Regions from separate parts of the Homo sapiens genome. Here all the other regions are linked to region 5. The links come from fine-mapping of genetic effects on gene expression. A gene starts in region 5. Each other region holds a variant in brackets. All regions are shown on one strand. Distances are between the middles of the regions. Region 1 overlaps NAA35 (N-alpha-acetyltransferase 35, NatC auxiliary subunit). Region 2 overlaps GOLM1 (golgi membrane protein 1). Region 3 overlaps GOLM1 (golgi membrane protein 1). Region 4 overlaps GOLM1 (golgi membrane protein 1). Region 5 holds the start of GOLM1 (golgi membrane protein 1). Region 6 overlaps GOLM1 (golgi membrane protein 1). Region 7 has its middle 78 kb from the start of NAA35.

Region 1 (4,066 bases), 110 kb before region 5:
TTTATTTAAAAATGGCCTCTATAGAACAAGAGCAGAAAGCGAAAATATTAAGACTAAAAGAAGAAGTAATGAATAATAGAAAGGGAGTAAAAGTGACCAGGCAGAGTTCAGGAAAGCAGTAGAAGAGAAAAATCCTGAGAGATCTCATTGAAAATAGCAAAAGCATTCTAGACATTGCTGAAAAGCCGTAAAGGACATGGAGGGCCGGGCGTGGTGGCTTACGCCTGTAATCCCAGCACTTTGGGAGGCCGAGGCAGGCAGATCACCTGAGGTCGGGAGTTTGAGACCAGTCTGACCAACATGGGGAAATCCCCATCTCTACTAAAAATACAAAATTAGCTGTGGTGGTGCATGCCTGTAGTCCCAGCTACTCAGGAGGCTGAGTCAGGAGAATCGCTTGAACCTGGGAGGCGGAGGTTGCAGTGAGCCGAGATCACGCCATTGCACTCCAGTCTGGGCAACAAGAGTGAAACTCCGTCTCGAAAAAAAAAAAAGGACATGGAGGTCAGGATTGAGGAAAAAACTAAGCGAAGCAGAAGTGAGCAAAGGAGATGTGAAGTATGATGAGAAAGTAATAGCAAAAGAAGTCTCAGTATACATATGATTGGCGTCCCTTAAGATGTGAACAGTATAATGGAACAGAAAAAAATGTTAGACATTTCTAGAAGAAACTAGAATTAAATCCATGAGTGTCCATTGAAAGAGTATAATGTGTTCCAGGATAAATTGATAAAGAATTATTAATAGTAAAATAGAGCCTAGTAAATTAAGATCTAAAGCAACTATTATATTGGCTTCATGGTTCTTCACATCAACATCAACACAGAAAGTAGTGTAACAATATCTTCAAAGTCCTCAAGTAAAGAACTGTGACCTGCTGGGCGTGGTGGCTCACGCCTGTAATCCCAGCACTTTGGGAGGCCAAGGTGGGCGGATCATGAGGTCAGGAGTTTGAGACCAGCCTGACCAACATGGGGAAACCCTGTCTGTAATAAAAATAGAAAAATTAGCTGGGCGTGGTAGTGGGCGCCTGTAATCCCAGCTGCTCGGGAGGTTGAGGCAGGAGAATCGCTTGAACCCAGGAGGCAGAGGTTATGGTGAGCTGAGATCGCAGCATTGTACTTCAGCCTGGGTGACAGAGTGAGACTCTGTCAAAAAACAAAAAACAAACAAACAAAAAAAAACAAAGACAAAACAAAAAAACTGTGACCTAAGAGTTTTACACCCATTCCAAAGGTCTTTGAGTGACACTCGTAGAAATATTTTTAAACTAGCAAGAACTTGGAATATTTTTCCAAAGACCTTTTTCCTGGAGGAGAAAGACTGAAATCAGGAATGAAATTCAGCCTACTGAGACATAAATGGAAAAGCTGTGGCAGAAGGACAGGCATTGAGCATTGATTCTGTTTCATTGTAGAACTGTGGTTAAAACGGTGGAAATTGGTTTTACTAAATATAATGTAACATAACTGTCAAGAATCTTGACAATATAAAAGTAATTAACCAAAGTCAGGAAGTAACGGGGAAGACTAATTTTCTTTTATATGCAGGGGTCCAGAGATACTGGTTAAAGCTGAGAAATCATCTGTAATATAAAGATAGGTATATTTCAACATGTGGAGGTAACCAATGGCGATAGAGATAAGATTATTCAAGTTTGGTGCTTGTCGTAGTTCATTTTGTGTTGCTGTAACAGAGTTCCTGAGACTGGGTGATTTATTTTAAAAGAGGTTTACTTAGCTCATGGTTCTGCAGCCTGGGAATTTCAAGATTCATGGTGCATGCTCAGCTTCTGGTGAGGCCATGCACTGGGTCAAAACATGGCAGAGAAGTTAAGCAGACATGTGGAAAGAGGGACCAAACAGAAAGAACCTCCCTTTTAACAATACACTATCATGGGAACTAATCCGTACCTGTGAGAACTAATCCAGTCTCACGAGAGTGAGAAGGCATTAATCTGTTTAGGAGACATCT[G/T]CCCCCTTTACTCAGACACCTCCTGTTAGGCCCCATCTCTCAACACTGTTGTACTGGCAATTAAACTTCAACTTGAATTTTGGTGGGGACGAAAACACATCCAAACCATAGCAATGACCAAAGGAAGGTAAAGGGAGGTCTTTAGCATTATCATTGTTTATTATTGGTAAGAAGATTAACAGCTACCTTTCTGAAGGAATAGAACTTTAGAGATATTAATAAAGTTGTAGATACAAAATTAATAAAAGACTTCTCAATTATCAGAAGGAAAATACAGCAAAGAATGAATGATCTTAAAGATAACAAAGGGAACCATGTATTTCCAATTTAGTGATAACAAAACTCAGTTCTGATTCTTGCTCTTCTTTCCTTCTCTTCTTGAAAAAATTCACTCCTAATGCCATGAGATGGGCCTGAGCACAATGGGCATGTGCGCTAGAGCGAGACTTTGGAGCCTGCCTTAGGGATGATGATGGTGTCCACATGGGAGATAGGAGTAGCCTGACATAAGGTGTTGTAACCATGTGGGTAGGTGGAGTGTACTTGTAGCAGGGTGAGGCCTAGCATGGGCCATCAGAGTCTGTGTGGAGTAAGGAAGTGTCCATGTAGAATGGTAGTGGAATGGGGAGGGCATCTGCAAAGAGATAAACCTAGAGCAGGAGTTTGGAATAGTTCAAGATACCTTGAGAGCATCACTGTGAATCGGTAGCCTAACTGGATTCACTGCTTCTAAAGTGAGTGGAGAAGGGTATTTCCACAGGAGTGTAGCTGAGCTTGGGGTGCCTGAGCCTAAGCAGGATTGAGAAGGGGACCATGTGGGAACAACCTGGCACTGTATGTCAGGAGCCTAAGTAGGATGAGGAGGGTGTGTCTATGGGAAGGCAGTCTAGTACAGGGTTTTGGAGTATAAAGGCAGGGAGTAGAGAGAGGCATGGGGTGTGGGAGTCCAGGCAGGGTAGGCTCATGTTAATGGAGCCTGGCAGAGTAGGGTGGTGAAACCTGAGGTAAATTCATGGAGGTGGTTGTGTGCAGGGCTGTCAGAGACCAAGCCAGGTAATGAGGGCATCTGTGCATGTGGGTGACCAAGTACAGGGTTTCAGAGCCTAAGCATGTTGAAAAAGGTGTCATTGTGGAAGGTTTCCCAGGTATGGGGTGTCAGATCATAAGTGGGGGGAAGAGGCTGTCCAGGAGGACTGGATGGCATGAGATGTCAAAGCCTAAGCAGGAAGAGAAAAGTAGAAAGGTGGCTCCATGTGGGAAGTTGTAGCCTAAGCACACTGATGAAAAGCTTCTGTGCAGAAAGGTGGCCTGTTGTGGGGTATCAGAGCTTAGATGGGGTGAGGAGAGCATCTCTAGAGGAGTGCCAAATGGAGTGGAGGTTATGGTGGCCTAACATGTCAATGATAGGAGATTGTAGTGGACTGAATGATGGTCCCAAAGCTATCAAGGTCCTATTTCTACTTCTCAGAACCTGTAAATATTACTTTATTTGGGAAAGGGATCTTTATAAATGTGATTGTTAAGGGTCTTGTGATGAGGGGGTGATCATGGATTGTCTGGCTGTACCCAAATATCATAAGTGTCCTTCTAAAAGAGGTGGATGGGCCGGGCGTGGTGGCTCACACCTGTAATCCCAGCACTTTGGGAGGCCAAGGCAGGCGGATCACGAGGTCAGGAGATCAAGACTATCCTGGCTAACGCGGTGAAACCCCGTCTCTACTAAAACTACAAAAAAACAGCCGGGTGTGGTGGCGGGCGCCTGTAGTCCCAGCTACTCAGGAGGCTGAGGCAGGGGAATGGCGTGAACCCAGGACGCAGAGCTTGCAGTGAGCCAAGATTGTGCCACTGCACTCCAGCCTGGGCAACAGAGCAAGACTCCGTCTCAAAAAAAAAAAAATAATAAAAAATAAATGAATAAAATAATAGGAACATATCAGTTGGATATAGAAAAGAACTTGAAGGGGATCTCACGTGGTCAAAATTAGCAAAAACTTAAGCATCAAAGTAAATAATTCTGACAGATCATAACTTATTGAATAAAAGATAAAGCCATTATTCTACCCTGATATAAATAAATGAAATGGACAGTTTG
Region 2 (4,066 bases), 37 kb before region 5:
TTACACACTCACACACTCATTCACACACACAAACAACAAGACAAGCAGTGACTCCCAAATGCTTCATGCCTACAGCCACCACTGAGCCAAATGGTGGGTCGCTGGATGCATGTTCCCATAGGGACAAGGGCACAAAGTGATGAGGAAACTAGTCCAGTCCACAAGCCCCTAAAGATGACATGATTATGTTTTGTGGGTTAAGAAGTTACATAACACACAGGCCGGGCGCAGCAGCTCACGCCTGTAATCCCAGCACTTTGGGAGGCCGAGGCGGGTGGATCACCTGAGGTCAGGAGTTCCAGACCAGCCTCAACATGGAGAAGCCCCGTCTCTACTAAAAATACAAAATTAACTGGGTGTGGTGGTGCATGCCTGTAATCCCAGCTACTTGGGAGGCTGAGGCAGGAGAATTGCTTGAACCTGGGAGGCAGAGGTTGCGGTGAGCCGAGATTGTGCCATTGCACTCCAGCCTGGGCAACAAGAGCGAAACTCTCTCAAAAAAAAAAAAAAAAAAAAAAAAAAAAAAAAAAAAAAGAAGAAGAAGAAGAAGTTACACAACACAGAAATGTTGTGACTGACACTGAATACTTGACATGAGGAATTCCTGGATGTTTTGGTATGATCATGGTATTGTGGCTATGAGAGACAGACAATCCCACCTTTTCAGGACGTGTGCTGAAATAGTCATGGTTAAAACGGCACGAGTTGTAATCGCTGAAGCTTGGCACTGGATGTGTGGGGGCTCACTGGGTCACTCTGTCTACCTTTTCATGTTTACGGTTTTCTACAATCAGCCAACACACACAGGCACACATAAGCTTGCCACATTGATAATTAAATCTGCCAAGTACAATTTTTTAAAAATCTTAACTTCAAGGCTGGTTTTAGAGGAAAAGAAAGGTGAATTAGAAGATGCTGAGATAAACCTGTTGTCTGGAGAAATTTGAGGTAGATTCAAGAACTTTTAGAAGGGCAGGTCTTTGCTGCAGTATTTCTCATTTGTAATTTCACTCCTAAAATTAAGCAATTTTCTTTTCATAGTATAGCTCCATCAACAATTATCAACTATGACAAATGGCCTTCGAAGCTCACTAATGAGGATAAAGGGAGGAAAAAGAAAAGAAAAACGAGTAACAGAGAAAGAGGGCAGCAGAGGGAAGACCGGGATGGGAGAGATTTTCTTGAAGACCTGAGACTGTGGCATCCGGTTTGGGATCTGCTGCTAATTTGCTCCTTGACTTTGGACGCTTCGTTTAACTTCTCTGTGCCTCTGTTTCCCCAAAGTGGAACCTAAGCAGGGTGGCCTGCTGAGTTTTATTTAAAGGGGCACCTTACAGACACCTCAAGTGGGAACCCAAATATGGGGGCATGGGTCAGAGTGTGAATGAGTGTCTGTGAGTGTGAGTTGAACTGAGTGTGAGAATACCAACAGGAGGAGAGGAGTGGCTAAAGGTTTAGGGGATAGAGTCAAATGTCAGCGTAAATGGTAGGATCCTGGTCAGAGAGCAGCTGAGGAGGCTTCAGGGCAGGGGACCCAGATGGGCAGAAAGGCGGGTCTGGACCTGCAGCTATGGGACAGTGTGCACAAGTCACCAAGTTTAAATGGAAGGGCGTCGGGAGATTAAGTGTAACTTTCTACAAAGCTTCAGAAAACACCATCTATCCAGGAAAACAC[G/A]TAGGACACACAGACACAGTTGCTACACGCCCAGAATAGCTCCTGCCAACACATCCCTGTGTTGTCACAGGGAAGGTAACATCCTCCCACCCCATCCACCTTGCAGCTTGGCGGGTGTGGGAAAGCACCTCGCTGGGAGAGTGCAGGATGCTCCCAGGACCCGCCCTGGGGTCACCCGGGTGCCCAGCTTGGCAGAACAAGGTCCATGAGGTGTGGTGGCCATCACAGACATAAGCACAGGGTTGATGGCGAGGGGGCCTGAACCCAAGACTGGCTCACACCCTCCCCCAGCATCTCCTGCACAGGGCACACTGCAGGTGCTTTGGGGAGGGAGGAGAGAGGATGGGGAGGAGGGGAAGGGGAGGAAGGAGAGAGCAAAGGATGGTGAGGAGAGGGAGAGAAAGGAGGACAGAGGGAAGGGAGGACGGGGGAGGAGGGAGGAAGAGGAGGAGGGAGAATGGAGGGAGAGGAGGAGGGAAGAAAAGAGGACAGAGTAGGATGGAGGAAAGGGATGGAAGGAAGAGGAGAGAGACAGGGTCTGGAGGGGAGGAGGGCAAGAGGAGGATGGAGGGAGGAAAAGGACAAAGGAAGGGAGAGGGGTGGAGGGACAGAAAGGAAGAGGAAGGATGGAGGGAGGGGAGGCAGGAGGAAGGAAAAAGGAGGAGAAGCAAACGGGGGGGGCTGCCCTTGCCTCTGAGAACCTGCTACACTGTCTCCTTTGGTAGCAGCCTGCCCCTGTGCCTCTAACCTACACGTGACTTGGGTCAAATAAAACTTCCAGGAGGATCCAAACCTGAAGGACAGTGGGAACCCCAGAATGCACTTTGAGGCTTCTCTAGCAGTGGACGAGCGCCTGTCTTCTTAGTCCCTGACCCTGGATCTTTCTGAAGGTCTCCTCATCACCCAGCTGCCAGGGAACCTGGCTGCCCCTGAAGCAGCTCACACTGGTCTGTCCCCTCTGCAGCACCACCCAAGCTGCCCCTCAGCTCTTCCCGCTGCTCTCACTCCTGAACACTTAAGGAGATGGCAGGGGAGGAGCTGCCGAACCAGAGGAGCACCCCACACACTGCCAACAGGGCTTGACCCAGGAGCGGGGGCTTGAAAAGCTCCAGCTCCGTTTTTAGAGGAAGAAGAATGCCGGATTACAACACAGCACCAGCAATCTGGATATTCGTTCCCTGGCTGTTCTTTAACCAGCCAGGAAATGCCCTGTGCAAGGGCTGGAGGCCTGGGGCTGCAGACTCCCAATCTCAATGGGCACCCCAGGGCTGAGCCACCTGAGGGCACTGGGGGTTTCCATTTTCAAACGGGAATCCTAGCAGCTTCCCTGCTCCCACCTGCGGAAGAGGAGACACTTTTGTACATTCTGACTTTCTGCAGACAGGTAAAAAGGCGTACACAGACCTTTGGGGATGAAAGAGAAACTAAAACTGAACCAAGTGTACAGGTTACAGCGTCACAGTCAAGGCACCTAACAGACCCTACTTACTGTTTGTTCTTAAACATGAATGACTGCAGATCCCTGCCAGAGACGGTAAGTGAAAAAACAGCTACCTCCTATTTTCTTTACGTATTTCCCATCAAACGCCTGTCTTGGGTTGGGTTAAGAATTACAGAAGGTAAACGGAGTCAATTCCAAGTCACTCAAGCAATTTTCTGTGTGAAGAGAGAACAAGACAAAAGCCAACCACAACAGCAAAACCCAAAGCCTCCGTTACGCCTTCTATGGCAATCAAACACGCCAACGCTCTTTCTAGTGCGTATGAAGCCAAGGCCAAGAGCGAGGACACCTGCAGGATTTGGTTCTGTCCCATTAGGAACAGAGATCAATGCACATGAAATCCATGCCTCGTCTGGTCAGCCGCTAACCATCGTGGGCAACCTCACATTGCACGACAATGCTTTCCATGTGGAACTTGTCCATGGCATGTTTAAAAATCAAACCACGTCCTGAATCAAATAGGCATCTGAGTCTTCTCCTGAGGTCCAGGACATCCCATGACAGGCTCAGGCCCCTCCCTGGAGGTGGGAGGTGAGGACCCAGCACTAGGACACCCACTGAGGCACAGTCTGCAGTGAAGGACATCTACCTGAATGGCATGTTTGCTGCTTCTCCTACAAATGTATTTTTAAGTGTGGGAAGCAAATTACTTGAGTTTAATTATAAACCTGTATTTGAAGGTTGAATCCAATTGACAAACTGGAGAATTTCCAATCTAAAAAGACTAGAAGTCTTCTGAGACAAACACTTTTATTTTCAGGGCAGCAAATTTTCAATGGATTTTACTGACCTGCTTCCATTCTGCTCAATTCACACTTTCCCGCACCTATCCCATCTGTCACGGGGCCTGTTGATCCCTCCTCTTGGCTGCCTCCCAAATCTGCTCACTT
Region 3 (4,066 bases), 66 kb before region 5:
CTCAAAAAAAAAAAAAAAAAAAAAAAAAGACGCCAGACATGACGTGCCTCCCGATGAAAGAACCAAAGAACACACCACCACTCACCTTACCGAGGGCTTGAGCCAGGACCTGAGTCTCATCAAGTCTCTGGGTATAGCTGCCACTCTACAGAAAACAGAGACCAGGCGAACTCACTCAACTCCCCCATGACTCTATAATCAGCAGTATTCAGGCTGTGGGAAACTACAGTCACATGGCTTGGATTCTTTTGTTGTTGTTGTTGAGATGGATTTTCACTCTTGTTGCCCAGGCTGGAGTGCAGCGGTGCGATCTCAGCTCACTGCAACCTCTGCCTCCCGGGTTCAAGCGATTCTCTTGCCTCAGCCTCCCGAGTAGCTGGGACTACAGGCGCCCACCACCACGCCTGGCTAATTTTTTCTCTTTTTAGTAGAGACGGGGTTTCACCGTGTTAGCCAGGATGGTCTCAATCTCTTGACCCGCTGATCTGCCTGCCTTGGTCTCCCAAAGCGCTGGGATTACAGGTGTGAGCCACCACACTTGGCCCAGAAAAATGAATTTTAAGAAAGAATACTATGAGTCCATAGTGATACCAAAACAAACAAGTGTGTTGGAGGAGGGAGAGGAGTTCCTTAAAAAATGTCAGGTAATAAATGTGCTGTGATGGCAGCATGTAAAATGTCACCACTTGGGCAATGTTCATCAATGGATGGTAAAGCTACACAAGTTCAAAGCATCCTCTTCTAGATGACGTATTAATATCAAAAGGAAAATGGCCTTCTGAGACCTTGTGGGCACCATGTTAGCTAAGGGATCAACCAATCACCTGTAGGACCACCTGCTGTTATGCCTCCTGGGGAGAAGCAAGAATTCATCAGCCTGAATCCACCACAAGCAAACAGACAAGGCCAGAGTTTGATACATTCTACAAGATACTGGCCTGGACTCTTCAAAAATTCAAAATAATAATACAAAGGGCAGCTTTCATAGCTGCTTGGAAGCTCTATGCACATACTGGGGCTTCTCATCTGGGAGGCAGACTGATCAAGTAGTGACCTAGCCATTTTGTTGGGAAATCCCTAAATGTCACTGAAAAATCATCCTACTTAAAGAGTTGAGCCACACTGAATATGTTTCTAGAAACGATGCAGACTTTCCGAATGGTTTTCATCACCTTGGGCTTCTCAACCCTCACTTCCCTCCACTGCCCCTGGTTTAAAAGCTCCTAAAGAACAGACGATCTCCTTGAAATGACCCATTAATTACAATATAATTTTGGGGATTCATTGGATAATCACGGTGAAGGACCAGGAAAGAGAAATGAAAGGTGACCTCGTCACCGATGTAGGCCCCATTCTTACCATCTATGTTTCTGTCATTCCCTGCCAGGGCTGCTTGCTTGTCTGTCTCAGATTCTGCTTCATTTTCATCCATGTTGTAGTCATCTTCTCCTCTCAGTTTCTGCTGGTTTCTCCCTGTAAAATTAGCACATAAAACATAAGCTACATCATTTCTGTCTTGATGTCACAGGACTATCAGAGCACAAGTGCTGGGGGTTAGCCATACTTGCTCACAATCAGATCTGTCTGCTGCCTCTCTGGAAATGGTAGGGACGCAAGGGCTGGCTTCCAGGACAAGCACATGCATTATGTGTACTCCACTTGGACTCGGAATCTACAGACAGCATGGCCCTAAATACAAGGGTGCATTCTAGGCAGAACATGGAGAAACTAACAACCCAAATCTCAATTTTTTAAAGAGATAATCAACTCAAGATAAAAGAAAGGTGCCACTGTTTTAGGAAGGAACGGATATCTACAGCTAATGACAGCATCTCCTTAGAATGGAGAGAGGAAATGGAGCTGCCACTGTGAGACACGTGAGAAGGTGTCCCTCATACTTAGAGCATGAGAGCACCCATTACTCTATTCTTCCCTGGAGTGGGCAGCAGCCAGAGAAGATGAGGACAAAAGGCTTTCAAGAGACCTACTC[A/G]AAGGGTTTAACTTACATATTTTATATGTGTATGCAGGCTGGTAAACAAAATCTTTTTTTTTTTTTTTTTGAGATGGAGTCTCACTCTGTCGCCCAGGCTGGAGTGCGGTGGCGTAATCTCGGCTCACTGCAACCTCCGCCTCCGGGGTTCAAGCGATTCTCCTGCCTCAGCCTCCCGAGTGGCTGGGATTACAGGCACGTGCTGCCATGCCCAGCTAATTTTTGTATTTTTAGAAGAGATGGGGTTTCACCATATTGGCCAGGATGGTCTTGAACTCCTGACCTCATGATCCGCCCACCTCGGCCTCTCAAAGTGCTGGGATTACAGGCATGAGCCACTGCGCCCGGCCAAACAAAATCTTTTTTAAAAGTGCACACCTGGAAAAGCAGCTCTAGTCTCTTTCTCTGGCTCACTGCCTGGGGTGGAAACTGCACAGGCCTATGTGTCCACCGCGTTTCTTCAAATGAGGTCACCACACCTGCATCTAGAAGCAGGTGCATCCTGCAGGCACTGTGGCATCTCAGGCCCACCTTTGTTACGCTTTGTGACCAGCCGCTGAGGGGTCTGACACTGGAGCGCCACAGGCTGAGCGAGCCAGTGAGATCTCCCCGCCTCACACACCACAAGCATCTTCTTGCTGGGTGAGCACGGAACACAAGGACAGAGCAGGGATACTTAGGGGGAGGCTGACAAAATCCAATTCTTTAACTGGAACTTGGAAGGACACGTTCTTCAGTAAGACACTGAAGTGAAAATTAGATTTAAATGGAATCAAGGTAACTTCTGCAAATAAGTGTATTCTCCAACTTCTGTGACTTGGTCCACCCCAGAGCGCAGGTGTCATGTCCTCAGAAGTGTTCCTGGCTCAGGTGGGAAGGACATTTTCCATATCTGAAGGGACTGAAATACATCCTGGAATAGTCGGTTGATCTCCAATTCCTACCCTTTATTTCTTTAAAAAGAAAAGAGTCAACCAAACCAAAAAGGAGTGATTCACATGTCATTTTTTCTCAATGTTCACATATGCATTAACCTTCATCTACCCAATATTCCTTCCTTCCTTCCTTCATTCATTCACTAGGCACTGATTGTCTAAATGGCACCAGACACTGCACGACGGTGGACATACAAAAATGGGGCATGTGGCCTGCCTGCCAGGAGGGGGCGTCCACTTGATGCTAAGCACCCATCTGCAGGCCATCCACTTGCAAGGTCCCCTCGACTCCCTGCCAATATTGCATCTAAAACCTCGAGTTCTAGAGCATATGCTGCTCTTCCTTCCTGCCTCCCTCTTGATAACGAATAAGAAACCTTCAAACGAAAAGGAATTGGCAAATTGTGGACTGCTGTTTGGTAAAATTCAGGGTGATATGTTGGTGCTGGGAAGGACATGGAGGTGGGCTGGGTGTCTGGTGGAAGGGAGTCCACAGCGGCCCCCGAAACTTCACACCCACCTTCCCCGGCAGCTTCCTGCTCCTCCTCCTGTCCGTCGGGGATGACAAGCTGGTCTCGCTCAGGGCCCTCCATCTCTGGATTTTCCTGGCTCACTGACAGGGCAGCCTGCACCTGTGGGGTCTGGCCCAGTTCTCCGGCTCCCCCGAAGCCTCTTCCACCTACAGGTCTGTCTTCCACCACCTGCTCCCGGCCTGGCTCCTGCGGCAGCCTGTCCCTCTGAGGCTCCTCATTCACCACCTGGATCTCATTGGTTTCCTCTGTGCACAGAACACAGTTAGCTGTGACCTTGCCAGCATTTGATTTAAAAAAAAAAAAAAAAAAAAAAGCAAAACCTGGTGCCACTCAATTCCCAGAGCCTTCCCAAGGAGTGGGGGTGGGGTGGGCTGCACACAGGAGAACAACCAGGTAGCTCCTTTTGTGACCTCAGCCACAGACTGCAGGCCTTTCTGTGCCTGCAGCTCATCGTCAGAACCGCGACAAAGGGAAAAGTAGCTTACCAAAAAAAAAAACAAAACAAAAAAAAAAAAACACCTGGACTAAATTACCTTGACAAGGTACAAAGGGAAAAGGGTATCCTGCTGAGTGACCTGATCATCGGGTCCGCTGGAGCAAGCACTTGG
Region 4 (4,066 bases), 48 kb before region 5:
TAAAGTAGTTTTTTCCAATTCTGTGAAGAAAGGCATTGGTAGCTTGATGGGGATGGCATTGAATCTACAAATTACCTTGGGCAGTATGGCCATTTTCACAATATTGATTCTTCCTATCCATGAGCATGGAATGTTCTTCCATTTGTTTGTGTCCTCTTTTATTTCATTGAGCAGTGGTTTGTAGTTCTCCTTGAAGAGGTCCTTCACGTCCCTTGTAAGTTGGATTCCTAGGTATTTATTCTCTTTGAAGCAATTGTGAATGGGAGTTCACTCATGATTTGGCTGTTTGTCTGTTATTGGTGTATAGGAATGCTTGTGATTTTTGCACATTGATTTTGTATTCTGAGACTTTGCTGAAGTTGCTTATCAGCTTAAGGAGATTTTGAGCTGAGACAATGGAGTTTTCTAAACATACAATCATGTCATCTGCAAACAGGGACAATTTGACTTCCTCTTTTCCTAATTGAATACCCTTTATTTCTTTCTCCTGCCTGACTGCCCTGGCCAGAACTTCCAACACTATGTTGAATAGGAGTGGTGAGACAGGGCATCCCTGTCTTGTGCCTGTTTTCAAAGGGAATGCTTCCAGTTTTTGCCCATTCAGTATGATAATGGCTGTGGGTCTGTCATAAATAGCTCTTATTATTTTGAGATACGTCCCATCAATACCTAGTTTATTGAGTTTTTAGCATGAAGGGCTGTTGAATTTTGTCAAAGGCCTTTTCTGCATCTATTGAGATAATCAATGTGGTTTTTATCTTTGGTTCTGTTAATATGATGGATTATGTTTACTGATTTGCGTATGTTGAACCAGCCTTGCATCCCCGGGATGAAGGCAACTTGATTGTGTTGGATAAGCTTTTTGATGTGCTGCTGGATTTGGTTTGCCGGCATTTTATTGAGGATTTTTGCATCGATGTTCATCAGGGATATAGGTCTAAAATTCTCTTTTTTTGTTGTGTCTCTGCCAGGCTTTGGTATCAGGATGATGCTGGCCTCACAAAATGAGTTAGGGAGGATTCCCTCTTTTTCTATTGATTAGAATAGTTTCAGAAGGAATGGTACCAGCTCTTTGTACCTCTGGCAGAATTCGGCTGTGAATTGCCTGGTCCTGGACTTTTTTTGGTTGGTAGGCTATTAATTATTGCCTTAATTTCAGAGCCTGTTATTGGTCTATTCAGAGATTCAACTTCTTCCTGGTTTAGTCTTGGGAGGGTGTATGTGTCCAGGAATTTATCCCATTTCTTCTAGATTTTCTAGTTTATTTGCATAGAGGTGTTTATAGTATTCTCTGATGGTAGTTTGTATTTCTGTGGGATCGGTGGTGATATCCCCTTTATTATTTTTTACTGCATGTATTTGATTCTTCTCTCCTTTCTTCTTTATTAGTCTTGCTAGTGGTCTATCAATTTTGTTGATCTTTTCAAAAAACCAGCTCCTGGATTCATTGATTTTTTGAAGGGTTTCTTTTGTCTCCATCTCCTTCAGTTCTGCTCTGATCTTAGCTATTTCTTGCCTTCTGCTGGCTTTTGAATGTGTTTGCTCTTGCTTCTCTAGTTCTTTTAATTGTGGTGTTAGGGTGTCAATTTTAGATCTTTCCTGCTTTCTCTTGTGGGCATTTAGTGCTATAAATTTCCCTCTATGCACTGCCTTAAACGTGTCCCAGAGATTCTGGTATGTTGTGTCTTTGTTCTCATTGATTTCAAATAACATCCTTATTTCTGCCTTCATTTAGTTATGTACCCAGTAGTCATTCAGGAGCAGGTTGTTCAGTTTCCATGTAGTTGAGCGGTTTTGAGTGAGTTTCTTAATCCTGAGTTCTAATTTGATTGCACTGTGGTCTGAGAGACAGTTTGTTATAATTGCTGTTCTTTTACATTTGCTGAGGAGTGCTTTACTTCCAACTATGTGGTCAATTTTGGAATAAATGCGATGTGGTGCTGAGAAGAATGTATATTCTGTTGATTTGGGGTGGAGAGTTCTATAGATGTCTATTAGGTCTGCTTGGTGCAGAGCTGAGTTCAAGTCCTGGATATCCTT[G/T]TTAACTTTCTGTCTCGTTGATCTGTCTACTGTTGACAGTGGGGTGTTAAAGTCTCCCATTATTATTGTGTGGGAGACTAAGTCTCTTTGTAGGTCTCTAAGGACTTGCTTTATGAATCTGGGGCACGCACCCAATTATTAAAAATGCAAACTAGTCTACATGGCAGACCAGAGGCTGCCTGAGGGAAGTGGATCACCACGGCGCACAAGCAAGCTTTTGGGGGTGATGAATATGCTCCCTGTGTTGACTCTGGTGGAGTTACTTGACATGTATGCTCTATCAAAACCGCTGTCAAACTGAACCTTTATGTGAGACCCCCCAACTCCCACCCCCGCAGCCAGGCAGCCTCTTCAACTTTGTGGGAAACGTAGGGTTACACAAACACATTTCACAAAGTGACCCCTTTTCACATAAGACTTTTTAATATTCTTAGAACCTGACTTAGAACTAGAATTCGAAACCAGCAATGACCAAAAGAATTATAATGCAAGTCATATAAGGAATTTTTAACTTCCCAGTAACCACATTTTTAGAGTAAAAATTATTCAACCCAACAGATGATTTAGCCCAGTAGCATGGACCCTGCTGACCCTCCTGTCACTCCTGTCACAGTGGAAGGAGCCCCCGACAAAGGACAGCACCCCATTTCCTGCTCTGTGGCTGCTTCAGAAGGACTCAAAGGAAGACCAATCCCCAGCTGCCAAGTTGAGTCAGAGCGGCAAAGAGGGGGAATTAAATTGGGCTGGACAGTTTTTCTAAGTTTCATGCAGACAATCTAAATTCAGCATGACCAAATTAACAGGTCACATGTATACCATATGTATATATAACAGAACATGTACCTATCATAAATACTATCTCTTAACACATTCATGAGTGACACTCTTAACTCTTCTGTACCTAACAGCTTGCAATGTATTTGGCAATATTTTTTTTTAAAAGGAAAAGCCTCTTAAGGAGATAGACTTAGGCAAAAAGAATAAAGATTGCTCAATGACTCATGACACTATCCGCCATGAGATTATAATGGAGACCCACCTGGGCCTAGAGAAGGAGAGAAAGGGAGTTTCCTCCTCAAAGGCCAGTGCCTGGTGTGGAGGAGCGAGCGGAACTTACCTTGCAGCACTCGGATGAGCCTCTCACCTGTGGTGATGTTATTCACCAAAACCGCCTGCAACGAAGATAAACTCGCATGAAACACCCAAACCAACACCTCAGCCTGACAGCCAGATGTGATACAAACCAATGATGGGGCCTGTCCCCAACCCAGCGCTGCTGTCAGGGAAGGAGCTCGCACTCAGCGCTCAGGCTGGGCCCTCCCATGTCTGCTGCTGAAAAGGAACAGGCCGACCTAGAGATCCGCTCCCCACCACCGCCTCTGGACCCGAGCAAAAGCCAACGGGTCCAGACCCCACTCCAGCCCAGGAAACGCTGCTCCTCCAGGAAAGGGCCAGCCAGGCCCTCCTTCCTCCTGCCCGACACAGCAGAGGCTCTGGGCACCCAGAGGGCTAATCAGCAACCTCACACCGCACCACACCACACAGCACTCCACACCAAACCACACCACGACACACCAAACCACACCACACACACCACTCCACACAACACCACGCCATATGACTCCACACACCACCAGACCACACCACACACCACTCTACACGACACTACACCATGCCACAACTCCACACCACACACACCACACCACACACCACACCAAACCACACACCACTCCACACCACACATTCACACCAAACCACACACCACACCCACCACTCCACACCAAACCACACACATCACACCACTCCACACCACACATACCACGCCATATGACTCCACACCACAACGCCAGACCACACCACACACCATTCCACACCACACACCACACCAAACCACAGCAGGCCACACACCACACTACACCACGCCACAACTCCACACCACGTACCACTCCACACCACACACACCAAACCACACATCAGTCCACACCACACACTTCACACCAAACCACACCACACCACACACCATTCC
Region 5 (4,066 bases):
AAACCCGGGTAGCCCTGGGCCTGCTATGGTCAGCTGTCCTAACTGTTGTTTCTGCCCAGCCCTCAACAACAACAACAACAGCGGGTGGAATGTAAATGCAAAATCTTTTCATTTCCCATCAATAACTGGACCTAAACCAGCCATTAGAAAGCAGATGGTATCCCTGGCCCTTAATATCCAAGTCACCACAATTTCCTGGCCCCACCCTCAGCACTACTTTCCTCTCATTTCTTTCGTTTTCCTGTAAAACCAACTTTAAAAAAAAATGTGAAAATTGGATAACCTCTCCATAGGAGAACAAAATGTATCTTAAAAGCTAACCTCTTTTCTTTAACCATCCTAACAATTCAATTTTTGTTCACTGACACCTTAAGAATTGAGTGTCTGGCCTAAAAACAGTAAGTCTTAGCAAGTTACTAGTTTCTATTAAGAAAGAAAGTAATGAGCTTAGCTTCATCTTTTATAACACAACTGGAAGAAGCTAGGATGCCTTTGGAGACCCACAAAAACTGACAAGAGATTGTCCCATGCCCTCCAAAATTCAGAAATACTAAAACTGAGATTTGAGCCAACCTGATGGCCATGAGCTAAACAAAGCCACTCAAGCGCTGCTAAATACTTCATCAGGTTATTGTGTATCTCACTAATCCAGCCCTAGAAATGTTCCTCAATAATGTGCATAATGTAGGGCCTAGGGACCCCAAATCAGACAAAGAAAACCTCAAAATCGTGAAAGTCACACAAGTTTAGTTTTGCAAATCTGGCTATGGGACATCTGAAATTGTCCAGCATCATCATGGTATTTCAAATATAATAATTCTTAAATTTTGCTAAAAAATTTCATCAAAATTGTTATTCTTCACATTTTGTTTCTTAAAAGCAAATCATTAAAAATATTAAATGGGATATGATTTTTACAGCAGGGCAAAGTTGTGTGGATCCTCCACGTTGGCAAAGGTGGAAACACAGGTATGCGAGAAAACCCCGAGCATCCACGAGAACGGGATGCAGCCGCGCTCTGGACGCGCGGCGGGAGGACCCGGAGCCCAAGCTCCGGGGTCACCAGCCACGAGGCCCAGCGGCAACGTGGACCCCAGGGCGGCCGGAGCGCGCCTGGGGCTGGAGGGGAGGAAGAGGCGGCGGGAGCCGAGAGACTCGCGGCTCGGCCAGCCTCCCGCGCCTGGTGCAAATCACGCTGCAGAACTGGAACTAGTGCGACTTAGGGGGTGCACGCTTTTGACTTTGGATGCCGACGCGCGTGACAAAGCTCAGAACAAAAAGACAGGCCCCGCATCGCCTGAGACTGCAGGGCAGGGAATCCTCGCGAGGCCCCTCATCGCAGGGCAAGGGGGCCGCGCGCCCGGTCTTGGGGAGCGAGCCGAGGGGCCCAGGCAGCCGCGGGCTACTCGGTGCAGGAAGGTGCGGAGCCAGCCCCGAGCGCAGCCAGCGAAGGTTGCAGCCCCGGCGCAAGCCGCGGGGAGGCTCCGGGGACCGACGCGAGGTCTCGGCGCGCGGGGTACGGGCCCTGGGCAAAGGAGGGAGGAAGCGATGGACCGCGGTTCGGGCAGCCTGGGGCCGCGCGCCGCCCACTCACCTCTTTTCGAGGCTCCGGCCGCCACTCGGGGATCCGGGGCCCCGCTACGAGGCCGCCCGGGTCGCTCTCCCGCCGCCGCCGGCCTCGAGCTCCGGCCGGCTCCGCGCCGTGCGCCCAGCGCCTCCGCGTCCAGCGCCGCCGCGTCTCCGGCCTCCGCAGCGGCAAGGCCCCGCCCCCGAGCAGCGCCGGCGGCGCGAAGGGAGGAGGCGGCGCCGCGAGCGCGGAGAAGCGAGGCAGGGGCTGCCGGGGCCGCGCGGACTCCCGGCCCCACGGTGCGCGCGCCCCGGCCGGTGGCCGCCCCTCGGCGGGAGCAGGAACGCCAGCGTGCGCCCAGTTCTCGCCGCTGGGCGTTGCCCCTTCCCCCGGGCCACCCCATCGCCCCTTCCGACGCGGGAGCTGGCGCCTGAGCAGCGACGCGGAGCGGGGAAGCGGCTGTGGGGAAAGGGTACCTGGGGGGAGCCCCCATCCCACGTTCCGCCCCGAGGGAATGTTCCCGAACAGCCAACCGCACCCAGCGCCACACTCACGTTACCTTCTTTATAAAAGTCGTCGGGTCAAAACTGCCCAGAGAAGGAAGCGAACGAAAAACAGGTTTTTAGGGGGCTTATACTCACAAAATTGTCTTTTTTCTCCCACGAGGCATTCCCTGTTGACCATCATCTCGCCTCGGTTGTCACCGCTCAGGCCTTAGTGTTTGGTCTGTGACCCTTCCACTGCTAGCAACGGAAAAAGTGAAGATTCCCGGACGCCTTCGGGTGTGATCTTATAGCCCGGGCAGCTGCATTTGAAACAGCGCCTCAGATGACGCTCAGGCGCACTGATGTTTGAGAAGCCCTATGAGGCCGTACCTCCCGGAGAGAATGCCACAAAACTAGTGACCTACAGGGAAACCATGCTAGAAAATTCTAAAGCAATGGTTCTTAACTCTGGCAGCACCTGCCATCCATTAGAATTATTTGGGGAGCTTTTAGAGCATTTAGGAACCAGGGTCCCACTTCCAGAGTTCAAAGTGAACTTGATATTTTTTGTTTGTTTTGAGCTTCCCAGATAATCCTAATACAGTATACGGCCAAGATTGAGAACAGTTTTCCTAGAATCATGTCTTCATGTCTTCCTAGCTCTGGTGTCTGGGAAAGGAAACTCCTTCCTCTGCGCCTCTCTCAAATCACAATAAAAAAACAAGTAAATACATGAACACCTAAAGGAATGCTCACAGCTGAAATTGATTTTAACCAGAACAAAGAGTCACCTTAAAAAAGGTGATCAAGATACCCTATTGCTACCTGAGCATGGAGCTTCTTAACTGCAGGAAACGTATCTTTACCAGCTAAAACCTCTTAGCTGAATTAGAAGCTGACCATACATGACCCCTTTAGAGGAATGTTCTACTATATTCCAAAATGATATTTTTGTTATCTGCAACTGTTAAACTGTTGTAGGGTCAGACCAAAGCATTCAGAAGCTGAGGCTGTATCAGATGTCAGCCCTGGTTTTGCAGACTTAAGTTGTGTCACTTTGATCTTCTAGTGAGCTTAAATAACCATAATCGGGGACAGGTACAGGAAATTCCCTTTCTTGCCCATTTTAGCTCTCTTAGTATAGTTTACATTCTTAGACTGGTGGACTGTAACTTCTATATCATTTGGCTCTAAGGAGGGTCTCCATTAGTCTCTCATTTATCAGCAACTAATTAGCGACTCACTCAGTGATTCTTAAACACTTTATGGAACAGGTCCATATGTCTAGGTGCTAAGGCAGCTGGCTGAATGAGCTATATTTTAATTGAAGATGAATTAGTCCTTTTCGTTAGATTCTTTATGACAAAAGTTGAAAATTTTAAGATGCAGTTTTATATATATCTATATACATAATTTACATTCCTTATAAAAAAGCTAATCAGTTGCTGGCCCTGAAAATTCAATTGGATGGGTTTTGATTAAACAATGTGCAAGGGGCTACAGTGGTTGGTTGAAGGAAGCATCCATGTTTTGCCTGTTAAGCATCCTTTCCTTAATGTCTTAGTCCATTTTGTGTTGCTATAACACAATTCCACAGACTCAGTAATTTATAAAGAAAAGAAATGTATTTCTCATAGTTCTGAAGGCTAGGAAGTCTAATATCAAGGTGCTGGCATCTTGCAAGGGCCTTCTTGCTGCATCAGCCTGTGGTGGAAGGCAGAAGGGCAAGAGGGTGTATGTGAAATTGAACTTGCAGCCTCAAACCCTCTATAATTGGCATTAATTTATTTATAAGAGTGGAGCCTTTATGACCTAAACACCTCCCTTTGGGCCCCACCTCCCAACACTGTTGCACTGGAGATTCAGTTTTCAACACGTGCTTTATGGAGCACACATTCAAACCATAGCATTCTGCTTCTATGCCCCCCACCACCCCCAGTTCATATCCTTCTCACATACAAAATACATTTATTCCATCCCAACAGCCCTAAAGGCTTTAATATTTATTTATTTA
Region 6 (4,059 bases), 25 kb before region 5:
GCACAGCTTTGAAAAATGTTCAAGGATTCCAGTAAATGTGGGTAAAGATGAAAGAAATCCCTCAGAAAAACAAGCATTAACTCAATTACTTTGTAACAGCTCTATCAAATTACATTTAGATGAATTACAGTCATGCATTGCTTAATGATGGGGATAGGCTCTGAGAAATGCATCATTATGAGATTTTGTCTTTGTGTAACCATCATAGAATGCACTTATACAAACCTGGATATTATAGCCTACTGTACACCTAGGCTGTATGCTACAGCCTAATGCTCCCAGGCTACAAACCTGTACAGCATGGGACTGTACTGAATACTGCAGGCCTTGTAACACAGTGGTAAGTATTTGTGTATCTAAACACAGAAAAGATACAGTAAAAGTAGTAAGTATTTGTGTATCTGAACATAGAAAAGATTAGAATTTGATGGGTCCATAATTGACCAAAACATCACATGTGGCGCATGACTGCATACATCTTAATTACAATGCCCTTTAATTTTTAAATCACTTCACTGAAGAAGGGTAAAAAGGAAACTGAAAAAAAGATAACCTTGACAATGCATTTTTATTTTTAAAAGTGTAATTCTGCAAAACACTTGATCTCAATCACCGGTTTCTAGATCAGCTAGCTGCATCACAGTGGTCTGGAAGTTTAGAAAAAAAAAAAAGTACATGTATGAATATGTGTATGTTTATATATATGTGAGATATTTTTAAAAATTCTATATTCTGAGCCCAAACATCCAGAGAGTCTGATCTAGTGTATATTTTTAATCTGTATTTTGTTCATAAGCTCGCAGGTGGTTATCACGAGCAGCCAGGTGAGGACGGATTGCTCTGAAACAACTTCCATAACAAATAAGATCAAAACCCCAAGCTGGGGTGTAAACAAAAGCTGATTTGATAAGCTGAACAGATCATTCTGCATCAGAACACCAGCAAGCTGCAGAGACTTACTTTCAGGGGGGTGCACAACTCCCCAGGTTGAAGGTGATTTCATCTTCCATTGCCCAATTGCCCACACTGCTCCCGAACCTTACAGAGAAGGGGGAAAGGCACCAAGGAACCACAGGAGACTCAGACTCTGCCCTCCGCTCCACTGAGGAACATGGCTCCCTATGACTCAGAGGCCCAAACAAGGTTTTCCCCAGCATTCTGCCAACCACACAAACCCGTGCTGTCCAATGTGACCATTATTTGGCTATTTACATTTAAGTTCGATAAAATTAAATAAAATTCAGTTCTTCAGTCCCACTAGCCACATTTCAGGTATTCATTAGACTCATGTGGCTGGTGGCTACTGTACTATAAACATTTCTGCCATCATAGAAAATTCTATCAGACAGGGCCTACCCAAAGCAGTAATTTCATTATGAACAGGTGTTTGTTCACATTTTCCCTGATGACAGGTTTGGTTTCCAAGCTTTTGTCCAGCCCCCAACTTGAGGGATATAACACCTACCCAGAGTGACAGTGACTGCTTGAGGTGAGGAACGCTGGCAGAGACAGGCAGGGAAATCTCTAGGTCAGGTGTCATTTGCAAACCACCCCCAGCCACAGGTCCCCACACCCCAGCTCCTCCCATGGCTGAGAATCACCATGGTTCTTTAAAATTTTTTTAAGGAGACTTGTTCCAGTTCTAACCACAAATGCTAACCTTCTAAGATTTAAAAAAAAAAAAAAAAAAAAGACA[G/A]ACAATGTATAAAAAAGTATTTAGGTGAAGGATAAGCCCATCCATGTAGCCAAAATAGAGCTAGTTAGAACACAGCAGTCTTTGGAAGCAAGGAGATCTAAAGAAGATGTTTTTAAAGTTTCTACTGTGAAGTCTTTAATGCAGACAAAGGTAAACAAGCTAGCATGCTGAACTCCCATGTACCCATCACCAGCTTCAGCACTGACCAACTCAAGCCCATCTGGTTTCCTCTATCCCCCTTCCCCTCCACCTTGGCGCCCTTCAGGTGCGGGCAGCCAAGAAGTTGTGTCTGCACTGAAGGAAGGCGGCGGCCAGTGTGCAGGGGTGGAGGCTGGCCTGGGGGCTCTCTAGGGTCTAGGTGTCATCCTGGTGACAGCTGCTAACTCTCTGAGCTTCCATTCACTAATAATATGAGCCCCAATCTCGTCAGACTGCTGGGAGGAATTAATGAAACAGTCCCTGTGAAATGCTCAGCCTCACGTCTGGCCAAGCACAGGCTCAGGAAACGTTCACTCCTGTGGCTGGTGTGGTGCCTGTCATCGTTCTCCTTCCATAGCCCCACCACACTGCTTGCTCTTGGTTCCACCTCCCTCAGTGTCTTCCTAACTCTTTTTAAAGCTAGCACAATTTGGTTTCATGGTTTCAATTTGGGAGGAAAAAAAAAATCTGCTACGGTCTGAGTGTGGGTGTCCTTCAAAATCCACACATTGAAACCAAATCACCAAATACCAAATGGAGGCGATAATGTTAGGAGCCGAGACCTCTGGGAGAGTCAAGCCCTCATACATGGGATTAGTGCCATAAAAGAGGCCCCAGAGAGCTGCCTTGCCCCTTCCACCAGGCAAGGACACCGCAAGAAGAAGGCATCCATGAACCTGGAAGTGGGCCCTCACCAGATGAATCTGCCCCGTCTTGATCTCTGACTTCCCAGCCTCCAGACCTGTGAGAATAAATACTTGTTGTTTATACGCTGCTCAGTTTATGATATTTTGTTATAGCAGCCTTAAACAGACTAAGACAAAGTCCATACAGAAAGAGATAACATTATCACCGCTGCTGCGGTGGCTTACGACTGCGCCCACCACTGCTGCTGTGATCATGGCCTCGACTGCCGTTGGTACAATTAGGTGTAATAATACCAACCACCAGCTGCTGAGCTTTCATTCTAGGTTGAGCACTGGGTTAAACGCTTTATAAATATTATCTCATTCAATCCTCACAGGCACCCTGTGAGATTCCTTTCTCATTTCCACTTGACAGTTGAGAAAACAGATCCAGAGAATTTAAGTGACTTGCCTAAAATCACACAGCTGAGGGAACTTTAAACCCGGGTCTGCCTGACTCACAAGTTCCATGCCTCCTACCACCAAACCACAGCTAAAATCCTCCTGCAGCTAAGGTTTGATGTGAGAACCCACCCTTGCTCACCAAAATGAAAAGACATTTATATCGCATATTCTAAAAGAGAAAAACTGTGGAAACAGATTCTCTTTTCAAATAACTACTTGATGCTCTTTTTTTTCTTTTTCTTTTTGAGAGATGAGGTTAAAGGGGATTTCAGGAGCACAAAAAGCATATCTCACCAGTAAGAAAAGGGAAGAAACATAAAGAAGCACTTTATTACAACAACATTATGCACAATTCCCAGAGAAGAAATATGAGCTTGCAAATATAGGAAAGTACTCTGCAAATTAAACAACAAAAAAAGTACTTCTTGAATTTTAAATCAGTTATGCGAGAAAAGTCTGAGTCCCTTCCTGGAAATAATTCATTTTCTGAGACAATTCAAGATAATGGAAGTTGAGCTACAACATTCTTCCAATAAATTAGCCACTCCAGAGAGAGAGGTACACGCATTATAAAAGCCAAATTTTTCAGGCCAGGTGCGGTGGCTCATGCCTGTAATCTCAGCACTTTGGGAGGCCAAGACGGGTACATCACCTGAGGTCAGGAGTTCGAGACCAACCTGACCAACATGGCGAAATCCCATCACTACTAAAAAATACAAAAAATTAGCTGGGCGTGGTGGCACATGCCTGTAGTCCCAGCTACTTGGGAGGCTGAGGCAGGAGAATTGCTTGAACCCGGGAAGCAGAGGTTGCAGTGAGCCAAGAGGGCGCCATTGCACTCCAGCCTGGACAACAAGAGGGAAACCCCATCTCAAAAAAAAAAAAAAAAAAAAAAAAAAAAAAAAAGCCAAATTTTTCTAGTTAATAATAGAGGCCAAAGTTTGATGCACTCTGGGACAGGAGATATTAGTAACTCACACAGTTACACAATTTAATAAAGAAAGTATAGTCATATATTCCTACATAAGAAAACCAGGCCGGGCACGGTGGCTCATGCCTGTAATCCTAGCACTC
Region 7 (4,066 bases), 240 kb before region 5:
AAATTCTACCCTCCATGGTTTAATTGACCACTGTGAGAGCATCCCCCACCAATTCCCTACGTGACTGCTGGACGACCCTCATAGAGCCTGTCAGCATTGTGGGCAAGACCCTGGGGAAGTTTCTCATTTTACATATGAATAAACTAGATGCAGAGATGTTAAGTAACCTATTCACAGTCACAGAGCTGAAAAGAACAATAATAATAATAATTGCTATTATTTATTACCATTTGCTGAAACTGTGCTGAACAATTTACATACATTTTCTTAGAATGAGAAACCTAAGGTCAGTTCTGGCTTTCGAGTGCCACCCCAAAATATGCTGCTTCAGCTTCAGTATGCTAATTAGTTAGAACTGAGGGCTTTGAAGGAAGAATAGGAAGTTACGAAGAGGGAAGAAGGAAATGGGAGTGGATAAATGGAATGGAGGGCTTTGCAGCCAAAAGGAAGAAAATGAAAAAAGGATCAGAGAGTTGGGACAAAGAGCTTTCTGAAGGACTTTACAGTAATAAAGAGGTGCCATCTCTAGATGGAGTTAGTGGGGAGAAACCCAGATTCAGTATATGCCCTTGGGTAGGTCTTGTCACCTCTAAGGACTTTAGGTCTCTCTTTTGTAAAACAAAAGATCTGAAAAATAAACAGAAGGGCTGGACTAAACAATCTCTAAGGTAGTTTTTTTTGTTTGTTTGTTTGTTTTTTGAGATGGAGTCTCACTCTTGTTGCTCAGGCTGGAGTGCAATGGTGCGATCTCAGCTCACCGCAACCTCCACCTCCCGGTTTCAAGCCATTCTCCTGCCTCAGCCTCCCGACGAGCTGGGATTACAGGCATGCACCACCACGCCTGGCTAATTTTGTGTTTTTAGTAGAGACGGGTTTCTCCATGTTGGTCAGGCTGGTCTCAAACTCGTGACCTCAGGTGATCCGCCCACCTCAGCCTTCCAAAGTGCAGGGATTACAGGTTTGAGCCACCGTGCCCAGCCTTCTAAGGTAGTAGTTTTTTTTTTTTAAATAATTATTATACTTTAAGTTCTAGGGTGCATGTGCACAACGTGCAGGTTTGTTACATACGTATACATGTGCCATGTTGGTGTGCTGCACCTGTTAACTCGTCATTTACATTAGGTATATCTCCTAATGCTATCCTTCCCCCGTCTCCCCACCCCACAACAGGCCCTGGTGTGTGATGTTCCCCACCCTGTGTCCAAGTGTTCGCATTGTTCGATTCCCACCTATGAGTGAGAACATGCGGTGTTTGGTTTTCTGTCCTTGTGATAGTTTGCTCAGAACGATGGTTTCTAGCTTCATCCATGTCCCTACAAACCACATGAACTCATCCTTTTTTATGGCTGCATAGTATTCCATGGTGTATATGTGCCACATTTTCTTAATCCAGTCTATCATTGATGGACATTTGGGTTGGTTCCAAGTCCTTGCTATTGTGAATAGTGCTGCTGTAAACATACATGTGCATGTGTCTTTATAGCAGGATGATTTATAATCCTTTGGGTATATGCTCAGTAATGGCATGGCTGGGTCAAATGGTATTTCTAGTTCTAGATCCTTGAGGAATCACCATACTGTCTTCCACAATGGTTGAACTAGTTTGCAGTCCCACCAACAGTGTAAAAGCATTCCT[A/G]TTTCTCCACATCCTCTCCAGCACCTGTTGTTTCCTGACTTTTTAATGATTGCCATTCTAACTGGCATGAGATGGTATCTCATTGTGGTTTTGATTTGCATTTCTCTGATGGCCAGTGATGATGAGCATTTTTTCATGTGTCTATTGGCTTCTAAGGTAGTATTTTTAAGCAGATGGGCCAAGAAACATTAATGTAACAGGAATGGCTTATGGGTAGGCTGCCAGTCATCTGGATGCCCCTGTCTGACATCGGTGTCTGTGCTCATTCTGATTGGTAGGTGCCTGTGCAGTAAAAGTTGTTAGTAATGTATTTGCTCTGGCTATAGATATGCAGAAGTATTGAGCCCTCAGCCCTCAGGGCAGCTGGAGGTCCTGAGCCTGCCATTTCTAATCACAAACCACCCTATTCATTTTTCATGATATGAAGACAAATATTAACTTTTATGAGAAACAATAACATCTCTTTCAGAGCTAACATTCTGTTAATCTGTAAGAGTATCATTTGCATTCTCTAGAGGGAGAGGTTTCATAACCCTCAGATAATATATGTGGGAGGCCATGGAAAAAACAAATAGGGAGCTCTCTTTGGAGAGTCTCAGGCAGAAAAGATGCTTATAGCAAAGGTAGAGAATTGGCAGGTAGCTGTACGAAGATTTCGCTTTTGGAGATGCATTAATTATTTTGCACTCGAATCACAATAATCATAAAGAGATAGTTCCTCCTAAAGATCTGGTAGAAGGTATAAGGTTTAGTAAATGGTGAATGAATGAATGAATGACCTATACTAAGTGTCTTTGTGCACCTAGAATTATGCCTGTAACCACACAGTTCCCTTGATATGTCTTCAGCTGGCCATTTATGTACATCTGTTGCCTCCACTAGACTCTGAGGGCTGCTTGATCAAGGACACACAGTCTATAGTACTTCGTTTTAGCAGCCCAAAGTGACTAAAACATGCCCCATGAGGGCAGAGACCTTATTGTCTCAATTACCACCGTATAACCACTATGTTGAAATAGTCACATAGTACCTTGCACACAGTAAGTGCTCAATTAATATTTGTTGACTTAAATAATTCAGTTCCATCTTTAAGTAGAATAGTGTAAAATACACTAAGAAAGACAATATTAATGTTGAAAATAGAATGTAAATAAGGTGAGCTGTATTTTTTGAGGTCCAGGCAATAAATAAAATTAGGCTCAAATATTTCTTTTTTTTTATTTTTTTCCTTTTTTCTTTTTTTTTTTTTTTTGGTCAGACAAGGTCTCGCTTTGTTGCCCAGGCTGGAGTCTAGTGGCACAATCTCAGCTAACTGCAACCTCCACCTCCCGGGTGCAAGCGATTCTCCTGCCTCAGCCTCCTGAGTAGCTGGGATCACAGATGCACGCCACCACGCCCGGCTAATTTTTTTTATTTTCAGTAAAGGTAGGGTTTCATCATGTTGGCCAGGCTGGTCTCGAACTCCTGACCTCAGGTGATCCACCTGCCTCGGCCTCCAAAGTGCTGGGATTACAGGCATGAGGCTTAAATATATCAAATGAAAAGTCTTTAATGAGGGAACTACTTAAAGAGTTCCTTCATGAAAGGACCAAGCAAAGAACATTGAGCCACCTAGAGCTTGCAACAGTGGGACTCTGTTACCATTTCTAAGGCTGAAGATGCAGGGGAGGAAATAGTGTTACCGGAGCACAGATAGTGCAGAGCTGGAGAGGATGGGCCATCTTGCAAGAGCTACAGCTGTGCAATGAAGCTGCCACTGTCAAAACCACAGAGCCCTCTTAACATTGCTTTTGCTGCATCCCAGAGATTTTGTTATGTTGTGGCTTTGTTTTCATTTATTCCAAATAATTTTTAAATTTCTGCCTTAATTTCATTGTTTACCCAAAAGTCATTCAGGAGCAAGTTGCTTAATTTCCATGTAATTGTGTGGTTTTGAGAGATCTTCTTGGCATTTCTATTTTCCGCTGTGGTCCAAGAGTATGGTTGGTACAATTTCGATCTTTTTTAATTTTTTGAGACTTGCATTATGGCTGAGCACATGGTCAATCTTTGAGTATTTCCCATGTGAAGAAAATATATATCCTATGGTTGATGGGTGGAGTATTTTCTAGATATCTATTATGTCCAATTGGTCAAGTGTTCAATTTAAGTCTAGAATTTCTTTGTTAGTAAAAGCAGTGTTAAGAGGAAAGTTTATGATTCTAAACACCTACATCAAGAAGTTAGATCTCAAATTAATAATCTAACATCACTTCTAGAGGAACTAGAAAAATGAGAACAAACTAACCTCAAAGCTATCCGAATAAAAGAAATAACTAAAATCAGAGCAGAACTGAATGAAATTCACACAAAGGATCAACAAAACCAAATGTTGGTTATTTGAAAAAATAAACAAAATGGATAGACTGCTAGCTAGATTAACAAAGAAAA

Evidence for each region. PIP is the estimated chance that this variant, and not a neighbour inherited with it, causes the effect.
Region 1: its variant is the best candidate, but not a certain one, in a credible set for the expression of GOLM1 in whole blood (TOPMed, PIP 0.78).
Region 2: its variant is the best candidate, but not a certain one, in a credible set for the expression of GOLM1 in whole blood (INTERVAL, PIP 0.62).
Region 3: its variant is the best candidate, but not a certain one, in a credible set for the expression of GOLM1 in gastroesophageal junction (GTEx, PIP 0.70).
Region 4: its variant is the best candidate, but not a certain one, in a credible set for the expression of GOLM1 in monocytes (BLUEPRINT, PIP 0.72).
Region 6: its variant is the best candidate, but not a certain one, in a credible set for the expression of GOLM1 in aorta (GTEx, PIP 0.81).
Region 7: its variant is the best candidate, but not a certain one, in a credible set for the expression of GOLM1 in whole blood (INTERVAL, PIP 0.58).

The regions. Positions count from the first base shown.
Region 1 is chr9:85,988,316-85,992,381 of GRCh38, forward strand. The region is part of intron 11 of NAA35 (N-alpha-acetyltransferase 35, NatC auxiliary subunit); the gene reads left to right. Among named protein-coding and RNA genes, the nearest start is that of NAA35, 49 kb to the left of the region's middle. The variant G/T (reference allele first, on the strand shown) is at 1,975.
Region 2 is chr9:86,060,381-86,064,446 of GRCh38, forward strand. All of the region lies in intron 3 of GOLM1 (golgi membrane protein 1), which reads right to left. Among named protein-coding and RNA genes, the nearest start is that of GOLM1, 37 kb to the right of the region's middle. RefSeq lists an enhancer at 2,304-3,220. The variant G/A (reference allele first, on the strand shown) is at 1,676.
Region 3 is chr9:86,031,923-86,035,988 of GRCh38, forward strand. GOLM1 (golgi membrane protein 1) reads right to left here. Exons shown (of 10, transcript NM_016548.4): 8 at 3,446-3,703; 9 at 1,360-1,473. Among named protein-coding and RNA genes, the nearest start is that of GOLM1, 66 kb to the right of the region's middle. RefSeq lists an enhancer at 3,988-4,066. The variant A/G (reference allele first, on the strand shown) is at 1,991.
Region 4 is chr9:86,049,380-86,053,445 of GRCh38, forward strand. It overlaps GOLM1 (golgi membrane protein 1), which reads right to left. Exons shown (of 10, transcript NM_016548.4): 4 at 3,158-3,212. Among named protein-coding and RNA genes, the nearest start is that of GOLM1, 48 kb to the right of the region's middle. The variant G/T (reference allele first, on the strand shown) is at 2,041.
Region 5 is chr9:86,097,817-86,101,882 of GRCh38, forward strand. GOLM1 (golgi membrane protein 1) reads right to left here and starts at 1,742. Exons shown (of 10, transcript NM_016548.4): 1 at 1,595-1,742. RefSeq lists an enhancer at 1,183-1,683 and silencers at 1,314-1,363, 1,524-1,623, 1,634-1,953.
Region 6 is chr9:86,072,564-86,076,622 of GRCh38, forward strand. All of the region lies in intron 3 of GOLM1 (golgi membrane protein 1), which reads right to left. Among named protein-coding and RNA genes, the nearest start is that of GOLM1, 25 kb to the right of the region's middle. The variant G/A (reference allele first, on the strand shown) is at 1,697.
Region 7 is chr9:85,860,759-85,864,824 of GRCh38, forward strand. No RefSeq gene overlaps it. Among named protein-coding and RNA genes, the nearest start is that of NAA35, 78 kb to the right of the region's middle. The variant A/G (reference allele first, on the strand shown) is at 1,637.